2 linked regions of the Homo sapiens genome follow. The protein of the gene in region 1 interacts with the protein of each later gene in a biochemical or structural test. Each region holds a gene or a part of one and is shown on either strand. Other genes may lie near its edges.

Region 1 (7,000 bases):
CTGAGTAGCTGGGACTACAGGGGCCCATCACCACGCCCGGCTAATTTTTTGTACCTTTAGTAGAGACAGGGTTTCACTGTGTTAGCCAGGATGGTCTCGATCTCCTGACCTCGTGATCTGTCTGCCTTGGCCTCCCAAAGTGCTGGGATTACAGGCGTGAGCCACCGTGCCCGGCCGCGTCTTTCCCTTTCTTTAAAGTAAAACTCAAATACTCGTCTCCTGTAAGAGTTATCTGTATTTTTTTTTTTGTTTTTTTTTTTTAGATGGAGTCTCACTGTCGCCCAGGCTAGAGTGCAGTGGCATGATCTCGGCTCACTGCAGGCTCCGCCCCCCCGGGGTTCATGCCATTCTCCTGCCTCAGGCTCCAGCGTAGCTGGGACTACAGGCACCCGCCACCTCGCCTGGCTAATTTTTTGTATTTTTAGTAGAGACGGGGTTTCACCGTGTTAGCCAGGATGGTCTCGATCTCCTGACCTTGTGATCCGTCCGCCTCGGCCTCCCAAAGTGCTGGGATTACAGGCGTGAGCCACCGCATCCGGCCAAGTTATCTGTTTTAATCAATTTTCCTCCAGTTAACTACTCTCCTGGCAATATTATCTGATTCAACAGCAAATACTTATGTCTTCTGAGTTTCTATTATGTGCCAAGCACTGCTTACCCTCAGGGTACAGTGGTGATCAAAAAGATGAGGTTTCTGTTCTTGAGTTTCTAATTTAGTGCATTTGATTTCAAGCTCTGGCTGTAAACTCAGAAAAACTTTACATTGTAACTGGTAGAGATATAAAAGCATACAAGGCCGGGTGCGGAGGCTTACGCCTGTAATCCTGAGCCTGCAATCCTGTAATCGAAGCACTTTAGGAGGCCAAGGCACCTGAGGTCAGGAGTTCAAGACCAGCCTGGCCAACATGGTAAAACCCCATCTCTACTGAAAATACAAAAATTAGCTGGGCGTGTTACTGCTGCATGCCTGTAATCCCAGCTACTCAGGAAGCTGAGGTGGGAGAATTCCTTGAACCCAGAAGGCAGAGGTTGCAGTGAGCCGAGATTGCACCACTGCACTCCGCCCTGAGCGACAGAGTGAGACTTTGCCTCAAAAAAAAAAAAAAAAAGCATATGAATGTGTGCATATGTATATATAAATTATATACACAAGCGCATGTGTATGTGTAGCTAAAATATTATGAAACTTTACCTCACTACATCTGGTGCACTCTGATATTTTCTTTTCTTTTCTTTTTTTTTGAGACAGGGTCTCACTCTGTTGCCCATGCTGGAGTGCAGTGTTGTGATCTTGGCTCACTGCAGCCTGGACCTCCTGGGTTCAGGTGATCCTCCCGCCTCACCCTACCAAATACCTGGGACTGCAGGCGTAGGCCACTAAGCCCAGCTAATATTTTTGGATTTTTAGTAGAGATGAGGTCTCGCTCTATTGCCCAGGCTGGTCTCAAACTCCTGAGCGCAAGTGATCCTCCCACCTGGACCTCCCAAAGCACTGAGATTACAGGCGTGAGAGCCACTGTACCTCACCCACTCTGGTATTTTCTTTCTTTTTTTTTCTTTTTTTCTTTTTTTTTTTTTTTTTTTTTTGAGACGGAGAATTTCACTCCTGTTGCCCAGGCTAGAGTCCAGTGGCACAATCTTGGCTCACTGCAACCTCCACCTCCCAGTTCAAGCGATTCTCCTGCCTCAGCCTCCCAAGTAGCTGGGATTACAGGCGCCTGTGACCACATCCAGATAATTTTTGTATTTTTAGTAGAGATGGGGTTTCACCACATTAGCCAGGCTGGTCTTGAACTCCTGACCTCAGGTGATCCACCCGCCTCAGCCTCCCAAAGTGCTGGGATTACAGGCATGAACCACTGTGCCTGGCCTGGTATTTTCTATTTTTATTTAGGTTTCTGCTTGTTTATTTTAATGCTGGTCCCGGCCCATTAAGTAGATTTCACAACTCACTAATCCTAATGAATAATTGAGAAGCATTGATTTAATGAGCTCTTCATCTTTGAGGAAGAGACAGAAGCAGGAATTCAAGAAAAAATGTTAAAAGGAAATACATTGAGATGTAAGCAGCAGTTGTTAAGTGAATGAAATATTGCGTGGCTTTTTTTTTCTTTTTAGTTTTCTATATTTTCCAAGGTTACTATAGTAATATGCATAAAGAAATTTGCTTTCAGAAAAGAGAAATTACGAAACTGTGGATTATTTAGAAAATAGTCAGTTAGACCGGGTGCAGTGGCTCACGCCTGTAATCCCAACACTTTGGGAGGCTGAGGCAGGTGGATCATTTGAGGTCAGGCGTTCAAGACCAGCCTGGCCAACATGGTGAAACCCTGTCTATACTAAAAATACAAAAATTAGCCGGGCAATAGTGGCATGTGCCTGTAATCCCAGCTACTCAGGAGGCTGAGGCAGGAGAATCCCTTGAGCCTGGGAGGCAGAAGTTGTGGTGAGCCGAGATCATGCCACTGCACTCCAGTCTGGGTGATAGAGTGAGAGCCTGTCTCAAAAAAAAAAAAAATAGTGAATTATATATTTTTTTCCTTTTTTGTAGTATTGAGGAGGAAGTATAACACATGGTTAATAATGCTTTTCAGTTCAGCAATCTTGGATTTTAATCCTCATTCTGTCACTAATTAACTAATTTAGAGAAGACATTAATATTTTCAAGTTGAATTTTCTTTAGCTGTAAAATGGAGGTAATAATGCCTACTTCATTGGATTATTGTGATTATTGAAGAATTAATATATATAAGTTACTTAGTATAATGTCTGGTAGATAATAACAATTTAATAAATGGTAAAGTTACTTTTCAGGCCTAATTTTTTTTTTCCCCTAAGAGATGGGGTCTCGGCTGAGTGCAGTGGCCCACACCTGTAATACCAGCACTTTGGGAGGCCAAGGCAGGAGGATTGTTTCAACCCAGGAGTTCGAGACTAGCCTGGACAACATTGCAAAATCCTATGTCTACCAAAAATACAAAAAAATTAGCCAGACATGGTGGTAGCACGCCTGTAGTTCCAGCTACTTGGGAGGCCAAGGTGGGAGAATCACTGGAGCCTGGGAAGTCAAGGCTACAGTGAACCGAAATTGCACCACTGCACTCCAGCCTGGGTGACAGTGAGACCCTGTCTCAAGAAAAAAAAAAAAAGATGAGCTGTTGCTGTGTTGCCCAGGCTGGTCTTGAACTCCTGGGCTCAAACAATACTCCTGTCTCAGTCTCCCAAGTAGCTGGGATTATAGGCAGTCACCACTGTGCCCAGATAGCCTAATTTTTTTAAGAAAGACATCTTCTCAGAATCCTTTTTTAGCTTAGAATTGTAGGTGAAATCTTCAGCTGTGAATAAACTACATCATCACCTATGTGGAAAAAAAAACTTCAGTTGAAGACTCAGTTTATGTATCTCAGTGGATTTAGCATGCTTCCTGAGAAAATGTGGGCATTTAATGAATTTGGATACAATGTACTACTCTGTAAGATGAGTTTTAAATAGGCATTTCTTCCGGCATTTATGACTTTATAGTACACCTTTCTTCCCTCCTGTAGAAGATGCTTATAAGATCAGGATCCGTATTGATGATGAGCCTGCCAATCTGGACATTTTGGATACAGCTGGACAGGTATTAAATCCCAGAATGTTATGAGTAAAGGCTTTTTTACTCTAGCAAAGGGGAGGGGAAGGCCTACACAGAGAAGATCAATAGTTTATCTCTCTTAATTTTTCATGCACTCTGACTCAGGATAGCAGGTAATCGACATGCGTTTTCTTTAATCTGAAAGAAATAGCTAATTGTGTGTGTAGTTGGGCTAGATTGCGTCAATACATAATGACCCTTGTTTCCCTCTAGGCAGAGTTTACAGCCATGCGGGACCAGTATATGAGGGCAGGAGAAGGGTTTATCATCTGTTACTCTATCACGGATCGTCGAAGTTTCCATGAAGTTCGTGAGTTTAAACAGCTTATTTATCGAGTCCGACGTACTGACGATACACCTGTGGTTCTTGTGGGAAACAAGTCAGACCTCAAACAGCTAAGACAGGTGAGGATAGAGAAGAAAATACTGTCTATAATCTTATACAATTAGTCATTTTTGTTTCTTGGCTTACAGATTCTTGGCTTGGCTTACAGATTTTTTTGCCTTAAAATAGAAAATCAGGCTGGGTGAGGTGGCTCACACCAGTACTTTGCGGGGCCAAGGTGGGCAGGTTGCTTAAGGTCAGGAGTTTGAGACCAGCCTGAGCAACATGGCGAAACCCCATCTCTACAAAAAATACAAAAAAACATAGCTGGGCATAGTGGTGCATGCACATGTGGTCCCAGCTAGTTGGGAGGCTGAGGTGGGAGGATCCCTTGACCTGGGGAGGTGGAGGTTGCAGTGAGGTTGGGGCTACAGCTTACTGCAGCCTCTACCTCCCCAGCTCAAGCAATCATCCCAGTTCAGCTTTGAGGGTAGCTGGGACCACAGGCGTGTGCCACCACTCCCAGCTAATTGTTTTTACTTTTTGTGGAGACAGGATCTCACTATGTTGCCCAGGCTGATCTTGAACACCTGGACTCAAGTGATCCTCCTGCCTTGGCCTCCCAAAGTGTTGGGATTACAAGTGTGAGCCACAGCGCCTGGCTGGAAGTAGTTTGATAGTAGTCAAATTCATAATGCTTCTCTGTTAATCTCCATTGGAAAAAATTTATAGGGATTTATATATAACATGTTCATTGCAAGACTATTTATGGTAGAAGAAAATGAGAAACAATCTAGCTGTCCAAAAGTAGAAATTATGGCATATCCATAATTAGATGTATCAATTATGGGCTCCTAATAGTTTTCAATATTTTAGTGTAAGCATATATCTCTTTCCCTCCCTTTGTGTTTCTTTCTTTTTTTTTTTTTTTTTTTTTTGAGACAGAGTCTCACTCTGTTGCCTTGGCTGGAGTGCAGTGGCACAATCTCGGCTCACTGCAACCTCCTCCTCCTGGGTTCAAGTGAGTCTCCTGCCTTAGCCTCCTGAGTAGCTGGGATTACAGGCGCATGCCACCACGCCCGGCTAATTTTTTTTTGAGACGGAGTCTTGTCTGTCGCCCAGGCTGGCGTGCAGTGGCACGATCTCTGCTCACTGCAAGCTCTGCCTCCCAGGTTCATGCCATTCTTCTGCCTCAGCCTCCCGAGTAGCTGGGACTACAGGTGTCCGCCACCATGCCTGGCTAATTTTTTGTATTTTTAGTGAGATGGGGTTTCACCGTGTTAGCCAGGATGGTCTCGATCTCCTGACCTCGTGATCAGCCTGCCTCGGCCTCCCAAAGTGCTGGGATTACAGGCATGAGCCACCGCGCCCGGCCTAATTTTTGTATTTTTAAGTAGAGACGGGGTTTCACCATGTTGGTCAGGCTGGTCTCAAACTCCTGACCTCATGATCTTCCCACCTCGGCCTCCCAAAGTGCTGGGATTACAGGCGTGAGCCACCGCGCCCAGCTTTCTTTTTTTTTAATTTTTATTTTAATTTTGTTGTTTTGAGACAGAGTCTCACTCTGTTGCCCAGGCTGGAGTGCAGTGGCGCAATCTAGGCTCACTGCAACCTCTCTGACTCCTGAGTTCAAGCGATTCTCCTGCCTCAGCCTCCTGAGTAGCTAGGATTACATGTGCCTGCCACCACATCCAGCTAATTTTTGTATTTTAGTAGAGACGGGGTTTCACCATGTTGGCCGGGCTGGTCTTGAAGTCCTGACATCAGGTGATCCACCTACCTTGGCCTCCCAAAGTGCTGGGATTATAGATGTGAGCCACCACACCCAGCGTTTTTTTGTTTTGTGTTGTTTTTTAGACAGAGTTTCACTCTTATCACCCAGGCTGGAGTGCAGTGGCATGATGTTGGCTCACTGCAACCTCTGCCTCCTGGGTTCAAGCAATTCTCCTGCCTCAGCCTCCCAAGTAGCTGGGATTACAGGCGCCTGCCACCATGCCCAGCTAATTTTTCTTTTCTTTTTTTTTTTTTTGATATAAAAGCATTTTTAAACTTTATTATTAATACTCAGGACATTAGGAATTTCCAGATTTTTTTCAGTAGCATTTGTAGAACCACTTTTGGTAACAAATACAGTAGTTAGGAATATGCATCCAGTTCAGAATGCATAATAATGTTTCTCCTGAATCCTTTCCGGCTAAAAACAGGGCTGGCACTGTGATGAGATATAGAACGAGAATCTACAAAAAACACTGTAACATGTTTGTTTTTTCCCAGAGGCTACATCCTCTTTTGCTGGAATACTTTATAAATACATATTAAAAAGTAAGGCAACAACTCCAAACAGTCCAAGCTGTTTGCTCAACTCTTTTCCCAATTAGATTTGCAATCCCGGTGATCAGTTTCATGGTTGTATTGTTTAGTGTTTCTTTCTTATTTTAGTAGAGATGGGGTTTCACCGTGTTGGCCATGCTGGTCTTGAACTCCTGACCTCAGGTGATCTGCCTGCCTGCTTCAGCCTCCCAAAGTGCTGGGATTACAGGCATGAGCCACCGCACCCAACTTTTTTTTTTCTTGAGACAGGGTCTTGCTCTGTCACTGAGGCTGGAGTGCAGTGGCGCAAACATGGCTTACCGCAGCCTTGACCTCCTGGGCTCAAGTGATCCTCTTACCTTAGCCTCCTGAGTAGCTGGGACCACAGGTGTATACCACCACATCCAACTAATTTTTTTTTCTTTTTTTGAGACAGAGTCTGGCTCTGTCACCCAGGCTGGAGTGTGACACCTGGAGTGCAGTGCCGCGATCTTGGCTCACTGTAACCTCCGCCTCCCAGGTTTAAGCGATTCTCCTGCCTCAGCCTCACGAGTAACTGGGATTACAGGTGCCCAACACCATGCCCAGCTAGTTTTTTTTAAGTGGAGACAGGGTTTTGCCATGTTGACCAGGTTGGTCTCGAACCCCAGACCTCAAGTGATCCACCTGCCTCAGCCTCCCAAAGTGTTGGGATTACAGGCGTGAGCCACCGCTCCTGGCCCCAGCTAAAT
Region 2 (8,601 bases), on another chromosome or scaffold:
TTGAAGCCAACCCGCTCCTCATAGGTCAGGGTGGGCACCTCCTCGGAAGCACAGGCTCGCTCGGGCACTTCAGCCCCACCAACCTGAAGAGGGGAGACACATGGGCATGAGACCAGTTGGCAAGGGCCAGGTAGGTGCCCAGAGACCCCCACCATCCTGGCCTTGAGAGTGGGTTCTGAAAGAAGGAAGAGCTGCATGGCCGTGGGCTTCCCAGGAAAGGTCTGCAGCACAGCAGCCCCATGCAGCCATGATGGGGTGTGAAGCGTTAACTACCTGCAGGCTGTGGGGTGAAGCTGGGGCTGGAGGCCGGGGCAGGTGTCCAGGGCTGAGGCCCAGGTGTCCTGGCCTTGCTCCTGGTAGCTGTCTGGAACCCCAGGGGGCCCCAAAGCTGTGAGGAGCTGGGTGGGAGCAGGGTAGGAGCTACTGGTGTCCAGCTGGCAGGTCAGGACACCCCTGGGCACCCTCACCTCGCTGTCGGAGCTGGGCTGGACGACCTCCCAGGTCTGGAAGTCCACGTCATAGCAGTGCAGCTCGTTGGGCAGCGTGTTGTCGGCCGCACCCCCAAACACATAGAGGTGGCGGTCAAAGGCCACCATGGTATGCCCGTAGCGCCGCTGCGGGGGTGGTGGGGAGCCCCGGAGCAGGTGTTCAGTTGGGATGCGTGTCCACCTGGGGGTACACAACAGTGAATCAATGCTGGGACAGGGGCTCCTGCTCACCCTCGGGGCCTCCCCACAGCAGGCCTTCACTGGGAGGTCCCCCTGCATCCCTTACGGTGACTAGCCCAGGGTCCAGAGGGAGGGCCTAGACACCTGCGCTGAGCACCTCTCACCCCATCCAGCACGGGCACCAGCCCTGCCTGGCTCCATGTGGCCCACCGCAGGGTCCTGCCAGAGCTCCCCCCTCTCCCCATGGAGCAGGCAGCAGTGATGGGCAGGAGGGTGGCATCTGACCCGCCCAGGCAGTCCTGCTCTCTGGGGAGTAAAGTTGTGCAGAGACCATTGCAGGTCACTGTGTTCACGCTGCCCAGTCAGAGCATCCCCACAGCTGAGTCCCCATCCTGGGAGCTGCCTGTACCCCACATCCTGATGCTGCCCCAGCACCTTCCACCTCCCAGGCTTCCCAGTACCTCCCAGCAAGTCCTCTCTTTTGCTAAGTTAGCTGAAGACTTCAGAACAGATCCTGGCCTGGCAGGGCTATGCCATCTGGCTCCATGCTGAGCCCCAGGCCCTTGACAATTTCCCTCATCCTGGGGCTCCCTGCCCTTCCTCCCACGCACCCGTGGCCTCCAGGGAAGCTCCCAAGTCCCTTCCCAAACCCCCTGTACCTGCAGCTCACACTCCTTGTGCCCTCTCCTGCAGCCCCATTGCAGGGATCAAGGGCTGGCCAGCAGCCAGGGGCAGCATGGGCCAGACCTCTCAGGACCTGCAGGCCCCTCTGGTCTTCTGCCATTATTTGAGATCTATGCAGGCCACGTCTGTTACTGGTGGCACTGACCAAGCTATTCACGAGGAAGGGGACGTCCTTCACGTTCAGAGGGAGGCCTAGCCAGGGGCCTCCTCGCCAGGCCTTATCTTGCTAAGCTGTAGCCATATCCTGGGGACCTGCCAGGGGCACCGCACATCCCTGCTCCGGGCTGTAACCTCCTGCTGTTTGCAGAGCTCACAAGGATGGTTACCATGGCCACCAGGTGCAAGAGGCGTTCTTCATATTCAGAAGGATTCGAGGGAACTGACCGTCCTCCCTCCACCCCACTGGCCAGAGTACTCACGTCTTGTCCTTGAATTCAAACTGGAAGAGGTTGTTGGTTATTTTGGCTCCGCTTTGCCCAGAGAATACAAACATCTTGTCCCGGCACACAGCCACGGGGAAGTTGCAGCAAGATGGGGGGATCTCGCCACTCTGGGCCACCTGCAGGGGGAGAGGACAGCTCAGCCCCGGCCTCACAGGGCCCGCTCACATTTCACCACACTCGAGACTGCTGAGATGGGACTGCTTTTATTCTTGAAACTTCCCCAGATGAGGATTCACAGATTCCTTTGTCTTGGAACAGCTCATAGCCCTGTCTCATCCACTTCACGGGGCCCAGTTGTGAACAGCTGGGGTTAAAATCGTCAGGGTTAAATCATCAGGGGCTAAACTCATGTTTTTCATGCCCAGAAGACTGAAAAACAATTTTTTTTAATGAATAAATAAATAAATTCCATGTTTCTAAAGGGGAAAGCAAGCCCAGGGGGAGCTCCAGGGAGCAGGACACTGGATAGCAGACGGCCCTCACTGCACTGAAATAAAGGGTGCGTTAAAGCAAAACCACATCCTCACACACGTGGCACTCTGCCCATCCAAAGCACCAAACCTCGAATCACTGTGCAGCCACAGTGAGGAACTGGTCGTGAAGGCCCGCAGGTCACCAGGGAGGAGAGCGAGGCTCAGGTCGAGGCTGGGCTTTGCAAGGGGAAGAAAGCAGCCTCGACCCCCAGCCTGGCTCCCCCTGCCTCCCACCTCCCTCCACCTGCACCCTGTCTCCCCATGCCCCTCACCTCCTCCACCTGCGCCCTGGCTCCCCGTGCCCCTCACCTCCTCTACCTGCGCCCTGGCTCCCCACGCCCCTCACCTCCTCCCAGCAGGTGAGCTCTCGGTCCTGGAGGCCAATTGTCCACATGTCATTCAACCTGTATTAGGACAGACCAGTGAGGACCCCTTGGGTCTGGTGGTCAGGGTGGGCCTAGTCCTGGCTGGAAGGGATGGCTGCAGGGAGGAGCCCCACCCCCACACAGGGTAGGAGACTTGTGCGGCCATGAGGCGGGAACTTCTGTGTGGGGTGGCAGCCACTGCCTCAAATCCCTGCTGTGCCAGGCCCCCTGCCCGGCCCAGACAGAACAAGTACTCTCATGCATGACATCAGGGCAGTGTGGCAGTGCCAGCTCCTCACTCAGTGTCCCTCCTGGGTGGGGAGAGGACACAGATATCCCAGATGCCACCATCACTGCATCGTTAGGAGTTTCTATGATGCTGAAGTTTTGGGAAACCAGCATATGCTACTTTTGTGATCAGAAAAAGAGAGCAAAGCCAACTTTCTAAAATAAGGAGGAAAAGGCCTTTGGCCTGGGCAAGAACCAGGGCTGGGCCTGAGCCTGGGCACCGCCCACCCGCCCACCAACTCAGCTCCGCAGGGCAACTCCTGGCTGAGGATCCTCATCCAAGCTACTCTGGTAGCCACGGGGCTCCACCCAGTGGCCCTCACCTCCATCTGTCCATCCTCCTCTTTCCCCATCCCCCTCCCAAGAAACCCCCAGACAGAGTGGCACTCAAAATCCACCAGGCACTCAAAATCCTCCCAGCCTAAGCCCTCAAATGCCAGGACGGCCTGCTCCGGGTCTCAGTGCTGTCGGAGGTGGGGTGCACAGGCCGGACCACCACCCACCTGGCGTTGCCGTCATAGCCAGCAAAGATCCACAGCTTGTCACTGTACACCGTGGCCCCATGGGCTGACCTAGCGACTGGCAACCTGGAGTGTGAGGGAAGAGGGGAGGGAGTGAGGCCGCCCAGCACAGACCTGAGCCACCCAGCCCCATGTGGTCAGTGCAGGGGCCACAGCCAGGCTGCATGGCTACATCCACCCGACACTGGGGCTTCAGGACCTCCACAAGGCACTAGGAATAAACAACAGCCCCAGAGGCCGACTAGTGGCTTGAAGAGGAATTCAGACAGCCACAGAGGCACAGAACCTTCTCCTAGGTGCCCCCAAAATATCAAAGGGGGTGCTCAAAAAGCGGGACCCCAGAAGCGCCATCAGCAGTACATTGGATCTTATTGAACATTTTTTTGTGACAAGGTCTTGTTCTGTCTCCCAGGCTGGAGTGCAGTGGGGCACACATGGTTCACTGCAGCCTTGAAGTCATGGGCTCAAGTGATCTTCCCACCTCGGCTTCCCAAAGTACTAGGACTACAGGCATGCGCCACCACGCCTGGTCCATTTGGGTCTCTTCTGAAAGGAGGGAGTCTAAGGGCTGGGAGCAGGCCATGCATAGCTGCACCGGGGGATATTCCACCAATCCCAAGCTCCCTGCTATTGCGTGCCCTCAGGGTCCTCATCTGGGAGGCAAAAGGGGGCAGATCCCAGGTCCAATGCCACCCAGGACCCAGCCTGTCCCAAATGTTTCTGCAAAGTTTCTCACCGTCCTTCAATTTTCCACTCCGTCCACTGGCCAGTTGCAAACTTGTATTCAAAGAGGTCGTTTTTATTCTTCAAGTTAGAATTGGAATAAATGTCCCCAGTGTAACCCCCTGAGTAAAGAGAGTGAGAAACTGTCAAACCCAAAGGGCAGTCTTGGAGATTTCAAACCCTGGAAGGTGGAGCAGAATCTGGCCCCCCTGAAAATGCATAAGCCAGGACTCCTTCCACAAGCCCCGGAACGACCTGCTGCCTGTCTGCCTCTGTGCTGGGCTCTGGGGACACAGAGATGAGCAGGACACTGTTCCCAGCCACAGCTCAGTAACACAGAAAGACACCCAACCCTGTGAGCTCAGGGCCGTTAGGGCAAGGGGTCCCAGATCCAGCGCAGAATTCCGAAGACTGGCAGACAAAGCCACGGGTGGAGAGAGAGCCCCTGCTGTACACAGCACGAGCACAAATGCCCCAGGCCTGCAGAAGGGCAGGGTGTCTGTGGGCCTCGGGGCGACACAGCCCCTGGGAGGCAAGAGGCTGCTTACCAAAGACAAACATGCTGCTCCCATAGACGACGGCCGAGTGGTGGTAACGGGGGGCCGGTGGGGTCCCAGTGGTAAAGGCCCTGGGGTGGGCACAGGGGTGGTGAGAGTCAGCGGGGGTCACCCATGAGGTCCACACCCCCACAGGGTGGCCCTGCATCCCTGTGCTGCCTTTCTTTTTTCTTTTTTTTTTTTTTTGAGACGGAGTCTCTCTCTGTCGTCCCGGCTGGAGTGCAGTGGCACGATCCCGGCTCAACCTCCACCTCCTGGGTTCAAGCGATTGTCCTGCCTCAGCCTCCTGAGTAGCTGGGATTACAGGCACCCACCATCATGCCCAGCTAATTTTTTGTATTTTTGTAGAGACGGGGTTTCACCATGTTGGCCAGGCTGGTCTTGAAGTTCTGACCTCAGGTGATCCGCCCACCTCAGCCTCCCAAAGTGCTGGGATTACAGGCGTGAGCCACCGCGCCCAGCTACGTTTCACTTTTGTATTTTGAAGGTGATACCTGTCTCATCATAGAAACTTAAAAAAAAAAAATCACCAATAAGGAAAAAACAAAATAGGCACTAAAGCTCATGCAAATTCCCATTACCAGAAAACCTCTGGCAACACCTTGAGGTCTTCCCTGCACACCTCTCCTACGCATACTTAGGCTTCCATGAAATTTTTTAAAATGGAATCAAGTGGCAGATATTTTGTAAATTGCTTATTCCACTCACAGAATGTGACCAGGTCCTCATGCTACTCCAGGACCATCCACACTCCTGCTCTCAGCAGCAGTGCAGCATCTTACAGCACGGGGTCCATCAATTTCATTTAATACCTATCTATCTAACCATCATCTATCTATCTACCTATCATCTATCAATCATCTAATCTATATAATCTATATATCCATCATCTATCCACCTATCATCTACCTATATAATCTATCCATCATCTATCTGTCATCTATCATCTATCTACCTATCATCTATCATCTATTGTCTGTCATCTATCTACCCATCATCTATCTAATCTACCTACCTATCATCTACCTATCATCTATCTATCGATCTGTCATCTATCATCTATCCACTATCTATCTATCTGTCATCTATCTGTCTAATCTACCTATCATCTATCTATCATCTCTCTTTGTCTTTCTATCATCTATCTATCTTTCTTTCTATCTATCTATCTATCTATCTATCTATCTATCTATCTATCATCTGTCTATCTATCTTCCTAGACAGGGTCTCACTTTGTTGCCCAGCTGGTCTTGAACTCCTAGCTTTTTTCTGAGTTTTATACTTAAGCAATTTTTGACAAATAATTGTGAAGCCTTCAGAATGATTTTTTAAATTAATTTGTAACTACTAGCCATCTTACAAAATCAAGTGTGAGAGAAAAGACATAGCAACTTCTGTACCCATACTAGCATCAGCCTCGAGGTAGAGGTGGACAGCCCAGAAGGGTGCCGCCCTGTGTGCCCAGCTTGGCAGCTGCAGGTGCGGGGTGGTTACTTGATCTCCTCAGCCTGACAGGGCGGCTCTGGATGTGGCATCCCTGAGGCCGTGGTTATCTCCTCCTGGAAGCTTCTTTCTAGCTTCCCATGATGAGAGAGACTCTGCTAGCAACTGGGACCCAGCACTGTGCCACTGTGTTCTAGGAGGAAAGGCAGGGCCCTGGAGCACGGGGCCACCCACCTGCACCAGGAGCAGTCTTTCACATCGAACCGCAGGAGGTCATTGAGCATGGTCTTCCTGAAAGGCAGCCGGAAGAGAGGGTGGCATTAGCCAGGTCTACTCTGCAGTGACCCCAGAGATGGGCACTGCATGTAGCCAGGGTAGAGTAGGGGGCTGTTGTGGGCTGGGTCACTAACACAGCCAGGCAACCAGCTGATGCCCAAGAACAAGAGTGGTGACCACAAAGGAGGCTCCCCAACTGATATGGGCACCAGGGCTGCCACACAGGCAGACACCAGCCTGCCTGGGGTCAGGACCAAAGCATGAATGTGGCCACCAGGAGCCCAACCAGCAGCTGACATGAAGGCATGAAATGGCCCAAAGGCCAGAGTCACCCTCACACCTCACCCTAGCCTCCAGAACCCCTATTCACACGTCCCAATCCCCTTCCTCTGCAGCTGTACCCTGCAATGCAAGTGCTTGCCCGTGCCTCAGGAGAGGCCCTTTGCTTCTCTCTGATCTTCCTGCCACTTCTTAAAAAAAAGAAATAGAGACAATGGGCTGGGCTCGGTGGCTCACGCCTGTAATCCCAGCACTTTGGGAAGCCTAGGCGGGCGGATCACTTGAGGTCAGGAGATTGAGACCAGCCTGGCCAACATGGTGAAACCCCATCTCTACTAAAAATACAAAAAAATTAGCCTGGCATGGTGGCAGGCGCCTGTAATCCCAGCTACTCGGGAGGCTGCGGCAGAATCGCTTGAACCCGGGAGGCAGAGGTTGCAGTGAGCCAAGATGGCGCCACTGAACACCAGCCTGGGTGACAGAGCAAGACTCCATCTCAAAAAAAAAAAAAAAAAAATAGAAACGAAGTCTTGCTTTCCTGCCCAGGCTCGTCTTGAATGCCTGGCCTCAAGTGATCTTCCCACCTCAGCCTCCCAAAGTGCTGGGATTACAGGTGTGAGCCACTGCACCTGGCCCCTGCCATTTCTTTGTTGCAAAAGCCATACAATCAAATAGAAAACAAATTCACTGGCCATTGCACCACCTAACACTACCAGCTGGCATATCACTACCCAGCCCTTGGGAAGAAGGGCAAACTGACAGGAGCCCAGTGCCCCGTCATGCCCAGCCTGTGCTGGGTGCCCCCTGAACGGTCTCACTTAGTCTGCACCAGTGGGTGCTCTCTCACCTCCATTTCACAGATGGCAACAAAGCCTAGTGGCTCAAAGGCTGTGTCTGAGGCCATGCAGCCAGGAAGCCAGGAGCCTAGAAGCTGGTGGTGATTGTGATACCGCCCCCCCCCCCTCCTTACTTGCCCCACGTGCCGCAGGAGGCCATCTTTCTTTGTACTCAGGCAGTCTTTATAAAGTTAAGACTAGTGTGAGACAAATTTGTATCCTATTTCTTTGTCATACTGCAGCAAAAATGTTTCTGCTTATTGCTACACAGTTGTCACACAAACTACCTGCTAAGGACACTCTTGAGGATGAAGGTCCCCCATTTCCCACTTGCTGCCTTGTACTGGACACTAAAGCCCTTTCTGGTTTGGAGGGTTCTCATTAAGGCTGCAGTAAATGCTTGTGGGTAGGCATCTCTTCTTCATTTCATTCCTTCATTTGACAAACATTTATGGAGTTTTCTAGATGCCAGGATACAATGGTAAAAGGAGCACAGGCCCTGCCTTGACTGAAGAGATGGATAATAACCAACATCTGTGTGCCTCAGGAACAAATGAAGATGGTAAGAGGTATGGAGGGGAAGCAATGGTCTCCAGTTGGTCCAGATGGCCAAGTAAGGCCTCAGTCACAAGAAACATCAGAGGAGGGGCAGGAAGGTGAGAGGAGAGAATGGGCAGTGCAAGGGCCTGAGCAGGGGGGCACTTGGTACAATCCAAACATAGCAAGGCAGCCCGTGCCGCCCCAGTGCAGTGAGGGACTGAGGGCAGAGGAGCAGCAGACTCTCATGAGGACTTGGGCTTTTACTCAGAGAGGCAGGGAGGCATTACAGGAGGATGAGCCAAGGAGGAGCATACTCTGACTTGCTTTTGTAAATGGGCCCCACCGGCTACTCCTGGGGAAAGAGAGTGGGAGGAAGACAGGCTTGAAGCCAGGGGACCATGCCCAAGGAGGCTCTTCTGCCCAGTATGCAGATCCTGGTGGGGTCCAGACTACCCCACCATCCTCAAGCCCGCCCCCCAAGGAGGCCTACAGGACCAAGGCTGCA

What was found.
Region 2: the proteins of RIT1 (region 1) and LZTR1 form a complex in vitro, tested with the Homo sapiens proteins (one study listed by BioGRID).

The regions. Positions count from the first base shown.
Region 1 is NC_000001.11:155,901,350-155,908,349, reverse strand, and holds part of RIT1 (GTP-binding protein Rit1), read left to right. Parts: intron 1-3,545; coding exon 3,546-3,619; intron 3,620-3,847; coding exon 3,848-4,039; intron 4,040-7,000.
Region 2 is NC_000022.11:20,983,696-20,992,296, reverse strand, and holds part of LZTR1 (leucine-zipper-like transcriptional regulator 1), read right to left. Parts: intron 6,457-8,601; coding exon 6,400-6,456; intron 4,794-6,399; coding exon 4,714-4,793; intron 4,288-4,713; coding exon 4,179-4,287; intron 3,509-4,178; coding exon 3,425-3,508; intron 2,673-3,424; coding exon 2,615-2,672; intron 1,912-2,614; coding exon 1,772-1,911; intron 670-1,771; coding exon 468-669; intron 84-467; coding exon 1-83. UniProt on the Homo sapiens protein: Substrate-specific adapter of a BCR (BTB-CUL3-RBX1) E3 ubiquitin-protein ligase complex that mediates ubiquitination of Ras (K-Ras/KRAS, N-Ras/NRAS and H-Ras/HRAS).